Regions from separate parts of the Homo sapiens genome. Here region 1 is linked to region 2. Evidence: fine-mapped expression QTL. A gene starts in region 2. The other region holds a variant in brackets. All regions are shown on one strand. Distances are from middle to middle.

The links.
Region 1: its variant is fine-mapped to the expression of LRRC8C-DT in CD4 T cells (BLUEPRINT, PIP 0.95).

Annotation. Positions count from the first base shown.
Region 1 is chr1:89,537,750-89,546,089 of GRCh38, forward strand. The region is part of intron 1 of LRRC8B (leucine rich repeat containing 8 VRAC subunit B); the gene reads left to right. Among named protein-coding and RNA genes, the nearest start is that of LRRC8B, 17 kb to the left of the region's middle. The variant C/T (reference allele first, on the strand shown) is at 3,690.
Region 2 is chr1:89,628,299-89,636,638 of GRCh38, forward strand. LRRC8C-DT (LRRC8C divergent transcript) reads right to left here and starts at 4,596. Exons shown (of 3, transcript NR_033981.1): 1 at 4,359-4,596; 2 at 3,718-3,911. It overlaps LRRC8C (leucine rich repeat containing 8 VRAC subunit C), which reads left to right and starts at 4,822. Exons shown (of 3, transcript NM_032270.5): 1 at 4,822-5,024. RefSeq lists a silencer at 4,624-5,283 and enhancers at 5,664-5,713, 5,744-5,793.

The DNA.
Region 1 (8,340 bases), 91 kb before region 2:
GGCATGAGCCACCACGCCTATCCAGGATTGGTGTTCTTATAAAGGAGGTTGGAGGGAGCTTGTTTGCCTCTCCCACCATGTGAGGATACAGCAATAGGGTACCATCTATAAGGAACTGGACCTCACTGGTCACCAAGTCTGCTGACATCTTGTGATCTCAGAATTCCTAACTTCTGGAACTGTGAGAAATAAATGTTTGTTGTTTATTAGCCACCCTAGTTCATGGTATTTTGTTATAGGAGCCTGAATGGATTAAGACATGCATCATTTTTATTTACACAGAGTAAAACCTCCCCAAGTATGTGGCTGGTAGGGCTCCTTGTCCTGTTTACTCTGAAAGAAACTTCACTCTGAAAGAGCATGGTTAGAACATACCACTCTTTTGGACCCAGGCATGGTGGCTGGAGCCTGTAATCCCAGCTACTCAGGAGACCAGTATCACAAGATAAAGAACATTTCAGGTATTCCAAATGTCCTAGAAAATTATGAGCAAGGAGAACTCTGGCTGGTGGCAGGAGAGAAAAAAAGCAAAATAAGAAACAGAGGTCTTGAAGTGGGAAGATTTCTCTTTCCTTATAGATGAAATTTTGGCATGGCAAAGAACAGTTAGGAACTGATAGTGCCTTTGAAGGTCTGAACCAGTAGACAGGAGAGAATGTTCCTCTTTCTTTCATAGAAGCAGTGACTCCCTTAGAGTGAAGTGACTGTCATCCCCCACCCCAACCCCAGTGATTTCCTTTGGGGACATTTTATACAGAGACTTGGAAGATAAACTTGTCACTTTTAGGGAAATACTCATTGTAGTAAGTTATCTTCCCAACCACACTTCCTTAACGGATGTGTCAACTTTTAGTACTACAAAGTAACTAAATATTTTAAGTAGCAGTCATCCACACTGCAGCATGAGTATGTCATTTCCAAAACTAGATGCTGTTTAAAGGTTTAAATTAGCATCTTCGAGGTTTTTTTTTGTTTGTTTGTTTGTTTTTTAGACAGAGCCTCACTTTGTTGCCCAAGCTGGAATGCAGTGACATGATCTCAGCTCACTGCAACCTCCACCTACCGGGTTCAAGCGATTCCCCTACCTCAGCCTCCCAAGTAGCTGGGACTACAGGCACCCACCACCACACCCGGCTAATTTACGTATTTTTTAATAGAGATGGGGTTTCGCCATGTTGGCCAGGCTGGTCTCAAACTCCTGACCTCAGGTGATCCACCCATCTTGGCCTCCCAAAGTGCTGGGATTACAGGTGTGAGCCACCGCACCCAGCCCCTTCAAGGTTTTTAATACATCTGGCTTTAAAATCTCAGAAGCCTAGCAAGACTACCTCCTAGAAACATTGATATTTATTGACATTTTAGGGTATTTTCTATTGTTGCTCTCTTAAAGGCAAAGAAAACCTATTTTTCTAGTTAGAATTACCCCTTAATGCATTGACAACTCTGAAAGAAGAAATTCTAGCCTTTTCTTTCCTAATCAGTGAAAGGCCCTTTCCCCCATATTGCCCTCTCCGCCCCCCATATTTGGGTATTTCTAGCCTACTTTTTCATCTGTATGCCCTGTTACTATGGTGACAGGCACCATAGAAATAGAGAACAAAGCAGATGTAATAAGCATCTCCTACATGGTTTACAATGCTAAAAAGAGATCTAGGATTTTCAGGCGTTGCTTTTTCTTCACTGATGATAGAACTGGACCAGCCCAACATTGTGGGGGTATAGGGACTGGGGTTATGGGCTGATTTGGACCCTACAATTCCCATCGTCTTTTACTTTATCAGTCCTTATTCTACCCAGGAGTCATGAAGGTGAAGAAAGACTAATGGGAGTCTGCATGGAAAGTGTAATATAGAAATTAGGGCCACAGAAACAACACATTGCAAAGGACAGATACTTCTGCTGAAGCATATTCCATTGGAGGGAATCAAGCCAGCTGTAATGTTCACCAGTCATTGATCCTTTTGCTTGATTTTGCATTGTTCAACTTAACCTTTCAATAGAAAGATTTATCAGCTAGGTTTCTCCCACTTCAAGGTACTTAGCCTATGTTAGATTTTTTTTAAATTAAATAAAAATAAATCTGGATTACTAATAACTTGCAATATTTGCTCCTGGCCATTGGGGCCATTGAACTTTTAAAAATAAGTAGTTGAACAGCTAATGCATGCTTATTTTGTGCTTGTTTTAGAATTATAATTAAATATTCAGCAGATATTGTGAAAGTTAGCTTTCCATAAGATCCAGGAGAAATTTTCCATAAATTGTTTTTAACCTTCTACATGCATGTCTATTATTTTATTTATTACATCTTCACGTATCATTTCTGGATATCTTTAATCAATTACCTAAGATTAAATAAAGTGTTCCAGCTACTCAATTCCATCACCTGGACAATTATTTTTAAGTTTATTATTTTTTAAGTTTTATGTTGCTTATATTTTTATGTTTAGGGACCTGTATAGTTTTAAAATAATACTATGTTTAGAATATAAGTTGTGATACATGAATCAAATATTTGGAGCTATAGAAGCTGAATGATCCATGTGTCCATTACATTGTAGTATGAGGGCCTGAAACTCCTTCTACCTCTAAATTCTTGTTTCTTTGCCTATGTGGCTCTTTTCTTTTTACTTGACGAGCAAAAGAAGTATACTTTGCCAATTTTGTTATCTGTTGTAATGGCCCTAACAGTGATGTGAAAATATGTCTGAATCAACCCCACGCTTTGAGTTTTAAAAAACCCACACAGTGTAACCTTCCCCAGTCATGTCAGCTTTTCCCCTTTGTGACACGAATGAAAGAACAAGAGCATTGGAGTGGGAGTTGGAACAGCCAGTGCTGACCGTGGCACAGCCTCTGCCAGGGGTGAGCTTGGAGATACATTTATATCTCTATACAAAGCATACAGCTTCCTCAGGAAGAGCCCAGGAGCCCCAAGGAAGGTTTTGAGAGATTATATCAGATTAGTTTTGGGAAGTAACACTGGCAACTGTGTGGAGGGTGTGCTGAAGATGAGAGAGATCATATTGCGAGACCAAGTAGGGCAGTGGGATGAAGTAGAGGAGACTAGTAGAAAAGTTAGTTTAGAAAAAAGTCATAGGATTAAATATTCTATTTCCTTTTATCAGAAGATCCTATGGTAATTACTTAAGTCAAACTGTGATTACTGACATTTTACTAGTTTTACTATAGCTTCTAACTTTTTCAGAGAAGGAGTGGATTAAGTTTTGAACCAGATGATTTGGGGTCAAATTGTCAAATTTCAGGTTACCAGTGAGTGTGCTTTATATTAGCACAACTTTTTAAATTATAGCTTCTAAACATTTATGTCTTCTGACTGGAAATGGGAAAAGATTTGGGGGAAGTACTATTTGTTCTATGGAAGAATAATGACACTTTGCACAGGAGAGGTTTGCTGAAACCAGGTAATCCCTCCAGGCAGCTTAGCTCATTGTCTTCCAGAAAGCTAAAAAATTATGGGCTCATTGGGTAAGGTTTCTTGGCCTAGAGAGAATAGAGGTTGTATTTGTGAGGAGCTTATTCTTTCATGGATTGCTGTTCTCTAAAACCTCCTGGGCAGAGAGAGTTCCCATCACTTTTGATGTTGTCATCACTGTGAACATAGAAAGTAGACCAGGTAGAGTTATTTCTATTTTTATCAATTAAAAAGCTGGCTTTCTGGCCGGGCG[C/T]GGTGGCTCACGCCTGTAATCCCAGCACTTTGGGAGGCCGAGGCGGGCGGATCACGAGGTCAGGAGATCGAGACCATCCCGGCTAAAACGGTGAAACCCCGTCTCTACTAAAAATACAAAACATTAGCCGGGCGTAGTGGCGGGCGCCTGTAGTCCCAGCTACTTGGGAGGCTGAGGCAGGAGAATGGCGTGAACCCGGGAGGCGGAGCTTGCAGTGAGCCGAGATCCCGCCACTGCACTCCAGCCTGGGCGACAGAGGGAGACTCCGTCTCAAAAAAAAAAAAAAAAAAAAAAAAAAAAAAAAAAAAAAAGCTGGCTGTCTGAGAGACTCCATAACTTGGCTAAAGTTAAGGCAGATGGTAGGCAGGATAAGAGTTCAGTCTCCTCCATCTTTTTGCTGACTTCTACTCTACCACATGCCTGAAGTAGCCACCTTCACACATTCTTCAGAACAGAAAGCATTGACTATACCAAGAATGAAATTTTCCTGATAATTTTAGTAACTGTTCTCTTGATATAATGTACAAATTATATTATTTAAATGACTAATTCACAGATTAAAATTTTTTAATGTAATATATGGCTTTTACCTTTAAAAGTTGTAAAATCCTGGGAGCATTTGAAACTTGAACACAAACCCAAGGCTACTCTCGTGTACCAAAAATATGGAACTAGACAGAGACCTCCTGGCCTTGAACATGTCTTGCTTTCATGACATCTTGGTTATTATTTATTTCTGCACCTACCTTTAGCTAAGGGACTAGAGAAGAGTGTCATCTGCTAGGGCAAGCTTTTGAGCTCTCTGGCTCAGTTCTCACAGTGGCTCAGTCTCCTATGAGTTTCAGAGTCTTCAAGGTGGTTCCTCTACCTGCCCCACAGCATCTGAAGCACTTACTGTGATTATAATAAAATAACTGAGGATTTGTTTAATCTTTGTCTCTGTCACCAGACTATAAATTCCATGAGGTAGAGATAGCACCTGTTTGAGGACATCATGGGTTTTGTTTATTTTGTTGCTTCTCCAGGGCCATTTACCACATAACAGCCACTAAATATTTACTGAATGACTGAGTGAATGAATGAATGAATGAATGAATCCATGTTTAGCCTGTTGTTCATTCCATGGAGCTAAGCTACTTTTTATTTTTCTCAGAGATCTCTTTGAAGAATATTCATATTGATGCTCGTTTTACTATTATGAATTTACTATTTGTGCATGTTTAGATAAGTCACATAACTGTCTCAGTTGCCAATCTGTAGTGGAGAAAATCTCATGGGGTTGTTGAGAGTTTTAAATAATTTATATAAGCACTTATAAAAATACTTAACATAAAGTTATCTCATCATGAGTATTGGCATCCATTATGGTTATAATATACAAGCATATTCAACTACTTCAACCTCACATCAGCTACTTGTTAGGGCCTATGTGTCCTCACACTAGACTTGTTTTGTCTTATGTACTGGGGGGACCTATTAAGGCAAGCTCCACCTGATTTATCTTTTGTAAGTTGTCAGTTCAGTTAACTAGACTTAAATTTACTTTTTCCTGGTAATTTTTAAAGTAGGGTCAAATTACTTAATGATGAAAAATTAGACTTGCATAGTTGTTGATCTAATAAAAGCACTATTGACAAAATAGAAAAAATTATAGCTGTCTCAGGACCAGATCACAAAAGCCCCTAAATTTTCGTTATAGCCTGAAACTTGTTCAATCTTCACATTTTCTGAAATTCAGCCTTATTCAGTAAATAGACAAGTAAAAGAAAACTATGGCCCTTCACATTTTTAATGTATATTTTGAGACATGTAGACTATAACCTTGAAAAGTCTTTTATGCTAATTGGTCATCATGGGTAACAATACTCAAAGTATTCAAAGTAACATAAGTCTAAGGTATAAATTCATATTTCATTTGTTAGGAGTCTAAAACTTCTTTGATTCTTTTTCTGTTGTGCATGAAGGTAACAAACGCCAGTGAGTGGTAGTTTTCTTATTATAAAACAATCTATTATACAAGAAAAAATTTATTCTAATATTATCTAAGTTTTGAAAAACTGATTTTTTTTTTTTTTAAGTTGGAGTCTTGCTCTGTCACCTGGGCTGGAGTGCAGTGGCACAATCTCAGCTCACTGCAACCTCTGCCTCCCGGGTTCAAGTGATTCTCCTGCCTCAGCCTCCTGAGTAGCTGGGAGTACAGGCACATGCCAGCAGCCCTGGCTAATTTTTTTTTTTTTAGTAGAGATGAGATTTTGCCACATTGGTCAGGCTGGTCTCAAACTCCTGACCTCAGATGATCCACCCACCTTGGCCTCCCAAAGTGCTGGGATTACAGACATGAGCCACCATCCCTGGCCATTTTTTTTTGAGTTGGGGTCTTGCTCTGTTGCCCAGGCTGGAGTCCAGTGGCACTGTCATGGCTCACTCCAGCCCCGATCTCCCAGGCTCAGGCTATCCTCCTGCCTCAGCTTCCTGAGTAGCTGGGACCACAGTTGCATGCCACCAAGCCTGGCTAATTTTTATTATTATTAATTATTTGTAGAGATGAAGTCTTGCTATGTTGCCCAGGCTGGTTTTGAACTCTTGGACTCAAGTGATTCTCCCTCCTTGGCCTCCCAAAGTGCTGAGATTACCATCATAAGCCACTGCGCCCAGATGATTTTTAAAATCTCTATAAATGTCTGTTTATGCAGAACAAGGTGTAAGAATACATAGTTATTTGGTGTGTGCAGTAGGGTTTCATGAGAAGGGAAGGGAAATGAAGGAAGCTATTGTTCAGTAGTTTACACTTTTGATTCTTATTGTTTTCCTCTCTAGTAACATCCCAGAGATGTTACACATGGTAAAGTCGTAGTAAAAAAAAATTATTTCTAAACAAAATGTTTCTTTCCCTAATGAGATTCTGGTTTGGGTGCTTTATTGTCAGTGTGCTGGGAATTTTGGAATGTTCTCTGTGTATTTCTATGATTTTGACCTAATAATCTCATTTGGATTTACCAGGCTCAGCAGCTGTTGTTTTTATCGACTATTGCTAAGTCATATTAATGTCCAAAGTTGAAAAATCCTTTTCCTATGTTGGCCTAGATTATTCAGAGTTTTACAAAATTTAAGCCTTTTCTCCAATGCCTGTAATTTTTATTTGCTTGTAAGAAACCTTATAATAATAATAATATCCCAGTGGGTACTTTAGATGGGCTAAGCCTATTTGCAGATCTCTCGCAGGATGGTAGTGAAGTTTGCAGGATGGTTTGTAGAACAGTGCTTTCTTGATAAATCCATCTATCCTCTTTTCTACTGGAGGAAGAAAAAACCTCAATTATATTGACTTTAAGTACTGTTTGATGTAACATGATAGATCTTTGCAGTTTGATATGAATGATTTTCCTTTGGAAAAGCAGAATGCAAAACTGAGAAGTCAAAGACATTGAGAATGTCCTAGGAGAGCATAAACTCAAAATTATAACCATTTTATTGGATACAATTGGAAAGTTTTATTTGAAGAGGAAATCAGATGTTGAATTTTGCCTTTTAATTCAATTTTTAACGTAATAGGAAGTTTTCTTACATAGTTGAAAACATATATTGCTTTCTTTGTAATTTCTAATTTGTTTAATTATAAGGCAGTGGTTTTGAGGTCTAAAAAAGATACTAGGTATGCTGTTACATTCCTCCCAGGGTGAGTTTTCTTGATTCTTAATCCCATCTGATCTCTGCACTATCACATTCCCTTTTTTCCTGTTGGGAGTTTAAATTTATTCTCCTTATACATTTAGGATTCAAACCAATAGCTCTTCTTGTTGTCTAGTGATATGGTCAATGATTTCTGCATTTACAGGTAAAGATGAGCATCAACAGTGTACTTTATCAGTTATAAAATCATCTTTACATAATAATCACATTTGATTCCGACAATTTAGAGAGGGAGAGAGGAAGAATGACTGAAATTAATTCCTATTCCTCAGAGAAGTTACACAATATACCCAAAATAGCATGTAAACAGAAGGGCAGGACAAGAACCAGGCCTTTTAGCTCTGTGTCCAGTCTTCTTTCCACCCTGTCATACTGTGTCTGCATGCCCTGTCCAAGGCATTTACCAAGACATTTCCCACATACAGAATTTGGTTAATATGCTGAATAAAATTGTTGTGTCAAATTTTAATAAACTCTATAAAACCAATTGGATATCCTTTGGTTCTTTCCCTGTTAAACGTGAATTCTTGCACTATATGTATGGTGAGAGAGGTTTCCTGCTTTCAAGGCCAATGACAGTGAGTGTTCAACTTAAGAGTTAAGAACAAGAAGACAACAATAAGACAGATGTCCCAAGAAGGCATATGACTCACAAGTTCAGTGGAAACATCGTAGGAGGTGAGGCTTGCAGGATGTGATAAGATATGGAAAGTTGAAGAAGGGGGTGGACGGGAAATGTTTGAGCAGAGGTGTATAGGAAAGAATGTATGCAGTACTGAAATCATTGCGGATGAAACGATACATCCAGGATTTGCTTCAAGACACCTGGCATGGGTGTGATATGAATTGATCATTGTTGGAGCTGGGTAAATGGTATATGGGGGACCCTTATAATATTATTCATACTTCTATATACATTAGAAAATTTCCATAGTAAGAATTTTTTTTAATAAAAATGGTA
Region 2 (8,340 bases):
AAAAGCATAACAAATTTATTTGATCGTAGTTTTGTGTGACACAGGAGCCTTCAGAATGAAGACCCCAAGATATAGGGGCAACTATTCCTTTATTATTATTTTTATTTTTGATTTAGGGTCTCACTCTGTAGATCAGGCTGGAGTGCAATGTCCTGATCATAGCTCACTGTAACCTGTAACTTCTGGGCCCAAGTGATGTTGCACCTCGGCCTCCCAGAATGCTGGGGTTATAGGTATGAGCCACCTTCTCTTGGCCCATTTTTATGCTTGGGTTCAATGAAGTATGGAAAGCTGTGTAGAAATATGATTGGACAAAAGGGGTATGATCCAGCAAGGGGAATGGGGAAATCCAGCAAGGCCTGTCTGTTCAGATTTCTTCTTGGCCTTTCGATATAACATTCCTTCCTCCCAGGTATGGGGTAGGACCCCCTGGAATGAGGGTCTTAATTTCTTTATGGCCAGCAGTTAGCAAGAAAGAGAAAGGGAAGGGAGGGAGAAGATTAGAGTAAAATGTTTAGGCTCTAAGGCTGGTTTTGGGGAAAAGGTTCTGGTTTATATGACCCACCTCAGGGAAGAAGGATTCCAGTTTCTATGGCTTGCTTCAAGGGAGAATAAGAGAGTGAGAGACAGGAGGGCAGGAGAAAGCTAGACAGAGACTTTGCTTCTGAGGCTGCTTTTTATTCCTTCATTTTGGGGTATCATTTTTAGCCCCAATAGACCACCATCTCCTCTGGTACAAATTCAACTGCCATTTTGGGATCAAGTCCACATTTGACATTACCTCTCAGGCAACTTTCTGGGCAAAAGAATTTTCTAGGGAAGGTTTTATTTTTCCCTGTCTAGCATTTTTAATGGCACAGAGTCAAGGATTTCAAAACTGTTGCTAAAGGTAGCATTTATCTTGCAGGTATTAATTCAGAAAGTGCTAATGGTTGCAACAGTCTAAACAACTGAAACTTAAAACAACAACGTTTTCTTTTAGCTCAGCCTCTTCCCACAAAGCTCAGAAATGGTATGGGGAGCAGATGTGCACAGGGTGGATAGAGAATGCAGCGTAAAATCCTGCTGGTGGTTTTGGTTTAGAATGTAGATTTTACTTGCACTCTTACCAGGTAGGATCAACTGAAATCAAATGCAAAACAAAACAAGAATAGCAGGTTGATCTGAAAGAACAATCCCAGCATTGACATCATCAAGGTTTAAGCAGATACATATACATAATACATAAATTTAGTATGAATTATTTATGAGCTAAAGGGTTCAGGTTTTAGAGCCTGTAGTATAATAAGAGTTATACTGAAAGTCAGAACCAATACAAGAAACTGAAACACTTAAAAACTCATTATTTCAATATTTAATATCAGGTCCTGTGCAGGGTATTGATAATGGACATAAAAGTGAATCAAGATACAGCCCTGCCCTGGAGAGGCTCCCAGACTCTGTAGTGAAGAGGCATGTAAAGAGACAAATGAGAGCATGCCATGGTAAGTGCTGTGGTCACACAAGGAAGGAAGAGTTATACTTGCCTAGAACCTGTGGAGGCTTCATAGAGAAGGTGACTTTTAAATTATGCCTTCAGGCCAGGCGTGGTGGCTCATGCCTATAATCCCAGCACTTTGGGAGGCCAAGGCGGGTGGATCACCTGAGGTCAGGAGTTTGAGACCAGCCTGGCCAACATGGTGAAAACCCATCTCTACTAAAAAAAATAAATAAATACAAAAATTAGCTGGGCGTGGTGGCGGGCACCTGTAATCCCAGCTAGTCAGGAGGATGAGGCAAGGAGAATTGCTTGAACCTGGAAGGCGGAAGTTGCAGTCAGCGAGATCACACAGCATGAGACTCTGTCTCAGAAAAAATTAATTAATTACGCCTTCAAGGAACAACTCAGCCCAGCCTGAGTTTTCTTACAGCTAACAACAAAACAACAATGTGACACAATTGCTGTTACCATACAACCCACTAGAGGGGTTACAGATATTCTAAGTCTCACCACAACCCTAAAAGGTAGTTATATTCCAATAGACTGATGAGGAAACTGAAGTTCATAGCTAGAGATACAAGATTTAAGCCCAGACCTATTTCATTCCAAATCCCTTACCATAGCCCTGCATAGCCCAGAAATATCTACTTCTGCTTCTATCACCAACCTGTACATGGTTAACTTGTAATTACACAGTCTTTAGTGTGAGAACTACTAACTCTGGAAGTCCAATTAGAATGTCAAAATTTAGCCTAAAGAATTGGGTATAAAGTGAAAGGTCAAGACAGAGTCTGTGCACCCAGTTCATCTAGCTCACAGTACCCTCTCCTTCCTGGAGATGTGCTGAACTTCAAGCACATTTGCTTCAAAATGGTTTATTCTGGTTTGTGTGTATGCATGATTCCCATGAACTATGAACACCCTGAAGTCGGAGAATAAGCCTTGTACTTCTTTAAGACCCTCACTCAAGTTGACTGATTGCTAATTCTACCAGTCCTTTACAGAGAGCTTGCTAAGTGTGGATGTTAATGTGAATTAGGTGGACTGAGGTAAGATCACTAGATTTAAGGTTTACATGCTACAAAATAAGAAGAGGTGAACTAACCAGTGTAGCATAGTTTTTAGACTAGTGGCTTTCAAGCATTAATGTGCATGTGAATCACCTGCCTACACGTGAAGAACTACCCAGTTGATCCAATTAGAAGGCAGACACAAGAGTAGCCAAAAGTATTGCAATAAAGCAACTTGGGGTGGACTCAACTTGCAGGGGATTCAGATCCCAGGTTTCCAAACCTTTTTGCTATTCCTGGTTCTTTTGCTTTCAGTGAAGAGTAGTTAAGTACAATAGTAGCTCTCATTTACTGACTACTTACAAAGTGATTGGCACTGTTCTTGGTGCTTTGAGCATATTAGCTAATTCTCACAGCACCCTGTAGTACTATACCTATAGGGATGATAAGGGGATGTGGGTGGTGGGGAGGGGGCAGATAAAAAGAACAGTAAATTTCCTAAGTTTAAACTGGAAGAATAGGGATTTCATCCTGGTTCACCTGAGTACAAAGTCTAAGGTTCAATGATTCCTTGACACTGGGTAGCAAGGGAGCATTTCAGGGATGCCTAAGCTTGTGGTCAGGTGCCAACGGTACAAAGATAGAAGTATATCAGAGAGCCCTTGCAGAATAAGGCCCTCCACAGGAGGGTTGTGACCTTGGTACTTGCCTCACTGTGTTTAAATTCAGGTAAGGTAAGAGAATTGAAGAGGTAAAGCTACCTTAGAGAGTATTGCTGCATCTACCCTGGTGACTTACAAGGTACTTGAATTTTTTTTTTTCTAGCAAACTGCTAAAGTTAGCCTTTGCCTTTTTCCCAGAGACTCTCTAGGAATTTTTCCCATCTGCTGACTAGGAGGTAAGCCCGGACCTAAATTTTTGTCTTGTTGTAGGTTAATTAAGACTGGTGTTAGATTCAGCTCCTAAGGCCTAAGAGAATTTAAGGTTGTCTTCTGGGAAGGACACCCAACAGCAGCATTGGAATTGGAAAAAAAGTGTAGGATTTTGCTGAGTGAGCAGGGGGAAAGCAATGTAAAGCCCAAGAGAATATCTTTTGAACAAACGTCCTTTTCATTTTGGTTTAGAAATAGAAACGTGGTAAAAGGAGGCGACTGTTTTCTGAAGGCTTGTAGCACGAAAACAGGCCAACTGGCCAGCAACTAGTTGTCTATCAGTTTCTCTACTCACATACATCTGCCTTTTCCAGACTGCCAGCGCGGAGCACTAGTTTGACTTTGGGTGCTCTTCAAATAGCTGGCATTGATAAGGCATTCCCAGAAGACTGTGTTACTTAGTAATCTTGTCGGTACATTTTTTCACTGGGCAGAGATTTTCCAAACAGAGAGCTGCCAGCTTTCAAGACGTCAGAGTGCTTTTTCATCCTGAAATTGGGTGGGAAAATGGGGAGAAGAAAAGCACGGTTCAGATCAATCAATGAGAGAGAACCCCTCCCTCCATACTCGTTAAACAACAGGTGGTTTTGCTGTGCACCGTCAACTCCTTTATGCGGGAGCTGTAGGCGGGGCATTCCAACTGAGTCTCCCTGGAATCTGCCCCTTAGCCCGTATTGCAGGGGCGGTGCAGTTGGGGATTCCGGCCTGAAAGGAGACTTGGTTGTCAAGGGGCTCAAGGGCTTCATGATCCAAGGATATTGGGTTTTGCTTTTCTCCTTCTCCATCTTCCTCATTCTATCCCACCGTCCCCTCCCCACCCTTCTCTTAGGAGGCCTTCGCTTCTCCTGTGGAGGGGTTATCTTCATCCTGACCCTGGCCTTCGGAGGAGTTCCCAGAAGGGCTATTTTTAGTGGTGGCTGCTCCCCTCTAACTTACCCAGGGGAGGAGCTGCGGTGGCTGAGCCGACGCTGCGCGCACAGCCGCCTGTGGTTTTCCGCGCATTGTGAGGGATGAGGGGTGGAGGTGGTATTAGACGCAGCCGAATCCTCCCTCAGAGTCCGCCAGGTGGGCGTCTCAGGGGTGGGAGTGGCCGCGTCGTGAAGCGGAGAGAGGATTTCTCTCCTGGTCCTGGAGAAGGCCCCCGGCGGCCGGCGGCATCCCTCGCTGGCGAGTCCCGGGAGCGAGGTGGTCTCTGCAGGGGAGGAAGTTCCCGGGCGGCGCGGCCTGCGTCACAGCGGGGCTGGCACCGCGGAGTCGACTCGGCGGGCGGTGGCGACCCCGGGGCCGGGCGCTGGGCGGCGCTGGCTGCCGCTAGCCGGGCTGCGTGCGGGGCGGCGCTGGAGGCGGCTCCGTCCGCGGCCGGGGAGGCGGAGGGGAGGAGGGCTTGCGGGGCTGGGGCGTTAGCTGCGTCCCGGCTGGAAGCCCGCGAAGAGAAGTAGGAGGAAGGCGCCGCCGTGGCCGCGGCCGCAGTGCTCGGGCGCGACAAGCCATGAGCAGCGACCCCGCGGGCGACGCCGCCGTCCCTGGCAGCCGCTGAGCCCGACCCCCAGGCAGCTCGCCGCTCCCTAGCACCTTCTCCAGTCGACACTCTCGCGCCCGGAGGTAAGGGCGGGGGATCCGCGGAGGGATGGAGAGGGGCAGCCCGCAGAGGGCCACCCGCTCGGTCCGCTGTGCGCGCCGGACCGGGACTCGCCCCGCCTCACTCGCGTCCTTGCTTCCCCCCGGCTCTCAGACAGGCAGAATGTGGTTGCCCGCCCGGCGTGTGGTGCTGGGAACCTTCCGCTACTGCGGCTCAGGAGCCCGCCAACCCCTACCCCACCCAATCCGCGCTAGCCCGAGCGGCCGCGCGAGGATCTCAGCCTGGCGCCCAACGCCGCGCCGCAGCGGCAGGTCCTGCAGACTGGGCGCGGGGGTGGGGGGGCGGTCCGCGAGGGGAAATGCGTCCGTGGCCGGGGCGATCGTTGTTCTTTCCTACCTCGAAAATCTCTGAGACCCCGGGGCCAGTCCTTTCCGGTCTATCACCCCCCTGCCACCTCCGAACCCTTGAAGTTAGCACTTTTGGGCAGGGAAAGGAATTGGAAGGTTTCTCGAAGAAACGTGAGAGCACCGTGTGCTCACCTGCAGGACAGGAGGGAAGGGGTTCAGCTTGATCGGGCGGGCCCCAGAAGCCAGGTGTTTAGGCCAGCGGTTGAGGCCAAAACCGCTGCCTTCATCCCACGCCTAGGCTCGCTGATCTTTCCCTTTCCAGCTGGTTCCCACCAATGAGATGATTAGGGATGGAGTTAGCAACTCAGGAGCCTTAGATGTGTTCTGTGGACACGAATGCCTTTCTTTTCTCCCTCAGCCGGTTCTTCCCTCCCCAACCCCCACGCCTGCCCGGTATACAGCAAAGTCCAAACAGTTTCTTCCAAACCTCGCATCCTCCGTAGTTTTGCAACAGCCGGACACCTAGCCCGCATCCTAATGCGGATATTTCAGAGTATTACGGCTAAACTTCCCTTGGTTTCAAATTCCTTAAACATGTTAAAGCCTCAGCAAACGTTAGGAAACATTTTCAGGTTCCCATCCTCAAAGTAAAAAATAAGAACCAATCCATCTTTGTTGGAGTGCCGGTGTTTGGCACGGGGAGGCTTGAATTACCTCCATTTAAAGCAGCCTTTGAAGGAAGGAATAGGTAAAGGAAATCGCAGCCGTTTGTAAGTCACATACTTCTTTCGCGGTAGTGTGAGAAACGTAGCCTTAACCAACAGTCACATTTCCCGACAGGTATGTGATGGTTTCCCAAAGCATCGATGAGGCTTCAGCGTGGGCAGGTCATTAAGATGCCATTTAGACGAAAAAGGAGTAAAAGTGGAGTAGTCCTCTTGGTTAGCACAATGCTGCAAAATCGCCAGAGCCAATAATTTTTATACATTTATAAATTCTGTTTATTTTTAAATAATTTGTTGAAAACCCAAAACGTAATCTGAGCTGCATAAAACTCGCTCAATTCATAAACAATGTGTTGAGTGTGTAAACAAACATTAAATGTATACAGCTCTAGTCTAGGATATTTGCATTTCTTGTGACTTGCTTTAACAGGGAAGGCCAAGGCTATAATTGGTTTGCTTTACTCTGGAGTGATTAAGTTCTGTCTTGGGGTCAGTTTGTTTCCTTTGAGGGGGATGTAGGGCAGTTTTGCAAAGATGGATATTTGCCATGGTTCACATAATAGATTGGGCACAGACAGGACCCATCAACCCAACAATTGTATCAGAGATACCAAGTATATTTAACAATTTTCTTATTAATAAAATCAAGCCTTTATTAATAGTACTAATCTATTATTTCTCAGATTAAGCACTTTAATGAAATGTATTTTTAAAAGGGAATGCTTTTAGTGAAAATAATGCATTAGGAGCTGTAAGATAAATGAATGAAAATGTTGCACTTTATTTCCATGAAGTTTATCTTTTAAAAAACAATACAAAGTTAGAAATATGTTTAACTCCCAAGTGTTCAATTTTTACCAAATTGTTATGATTTTTAATACTCTATAGTATTATTAAGTTATAGTCACCTATGACATTATAATAGAGCGAGCCTAAGTTTAAAATGAAATGAGGTGGAAACTATATTTATTTTGCCAAGAATTGTGTTAATGATTTAATATGGTACATTGCTATAACATAATCTAGCTGCATGCTAGATACCTAATACACATTATCTCAGGTTCTTACAATGAACCCCTAAGGTAAATGGTGCCATCCACATTTTACATAAGAAGGAAGTTCAGAGTTTCTGATTTGGCTGAAGACTATGCAGCTAAGTTAGTGCCTGAATGAAGCCAAGCCTCCTTAGTCTTAATGATATACTTTTTTTTATTATCCAAAGCTGCTTATTTATTTTTTCTATATAAATTTGTTGTTAACTCACCATAGTGACTATATGAGGAAACAGAGATTGTAAAGTTTTCTGCCCAGCGTTTTCCATATAACAGAATTCCAATTTTGAATCAAGGCCATCTGTTTCTAAAACCCATGTTCTTGCCACTGATTTCTCTTAAATGACTGATCCAGAGCTTAACCTTATGGACAATTTACTCCTGCCCATCAGCTATTATCACTGACATGACAATGATGGTCTCATGGGCTGTAACACACTCCCAAGATTTTATACTTCATTTCTGGAGTGTTGACTGTATCTCCAGTTTCAGATCACTCATAAAAGCATATTACAACTAATGAGGGTTACATAACCATGGAGGTATCCTTGAATCTACTTGATTCCTTTTGAACTATAAATCATTCTGGTTTGGCATGGGGTAAAGAGAATGGCCTCCAGAAAAAGCTGCTGTCAAATTCGGACTCTGCCGTGCAGTAGGAGTGCAAATGAGGTCAGATTATTCAACTTCTTTGAACCCTGGTTTCCTCTTGTATAATGGGATTAATAAAGCCTCCCTAGCTGGATCACTGTGCAGATTACTTGTAATAGTGCATGTAAAGGACAGCTCTTGTCACCTAGTAGGTGCTCAGTAAGGATTAACACCAGTGTATCCTAGCACTGGTAGAAACTTCTGCTGTATTTCACTTTATGTATATTTTACATGCACGTAGTGATTAGTCATTGCTATCAGTGATTCACTCTTTATGTAATTATACAAAGGTCTAATCTGATTCTTAGCATCTTTAACTTTTGAATCACATCCTTTTTTGTTGTCTTGAGTCAGAAACATGTACTCATTCTATAGTTTTTCCTTTGCTCTTACTCTTTTATTTTATTTTTACTTTACTAACAATATGTTGATGGATCGGAATTTGTATTTTTTGGCAAACATACTTTCCTTTTTTCTGCCTCTCCTGATCTCTTAGCCTTGTATATCACTCAGGGTACCATGACAATGCCAGTCTCTCCCCACCACACACCTCACCCTTGACCA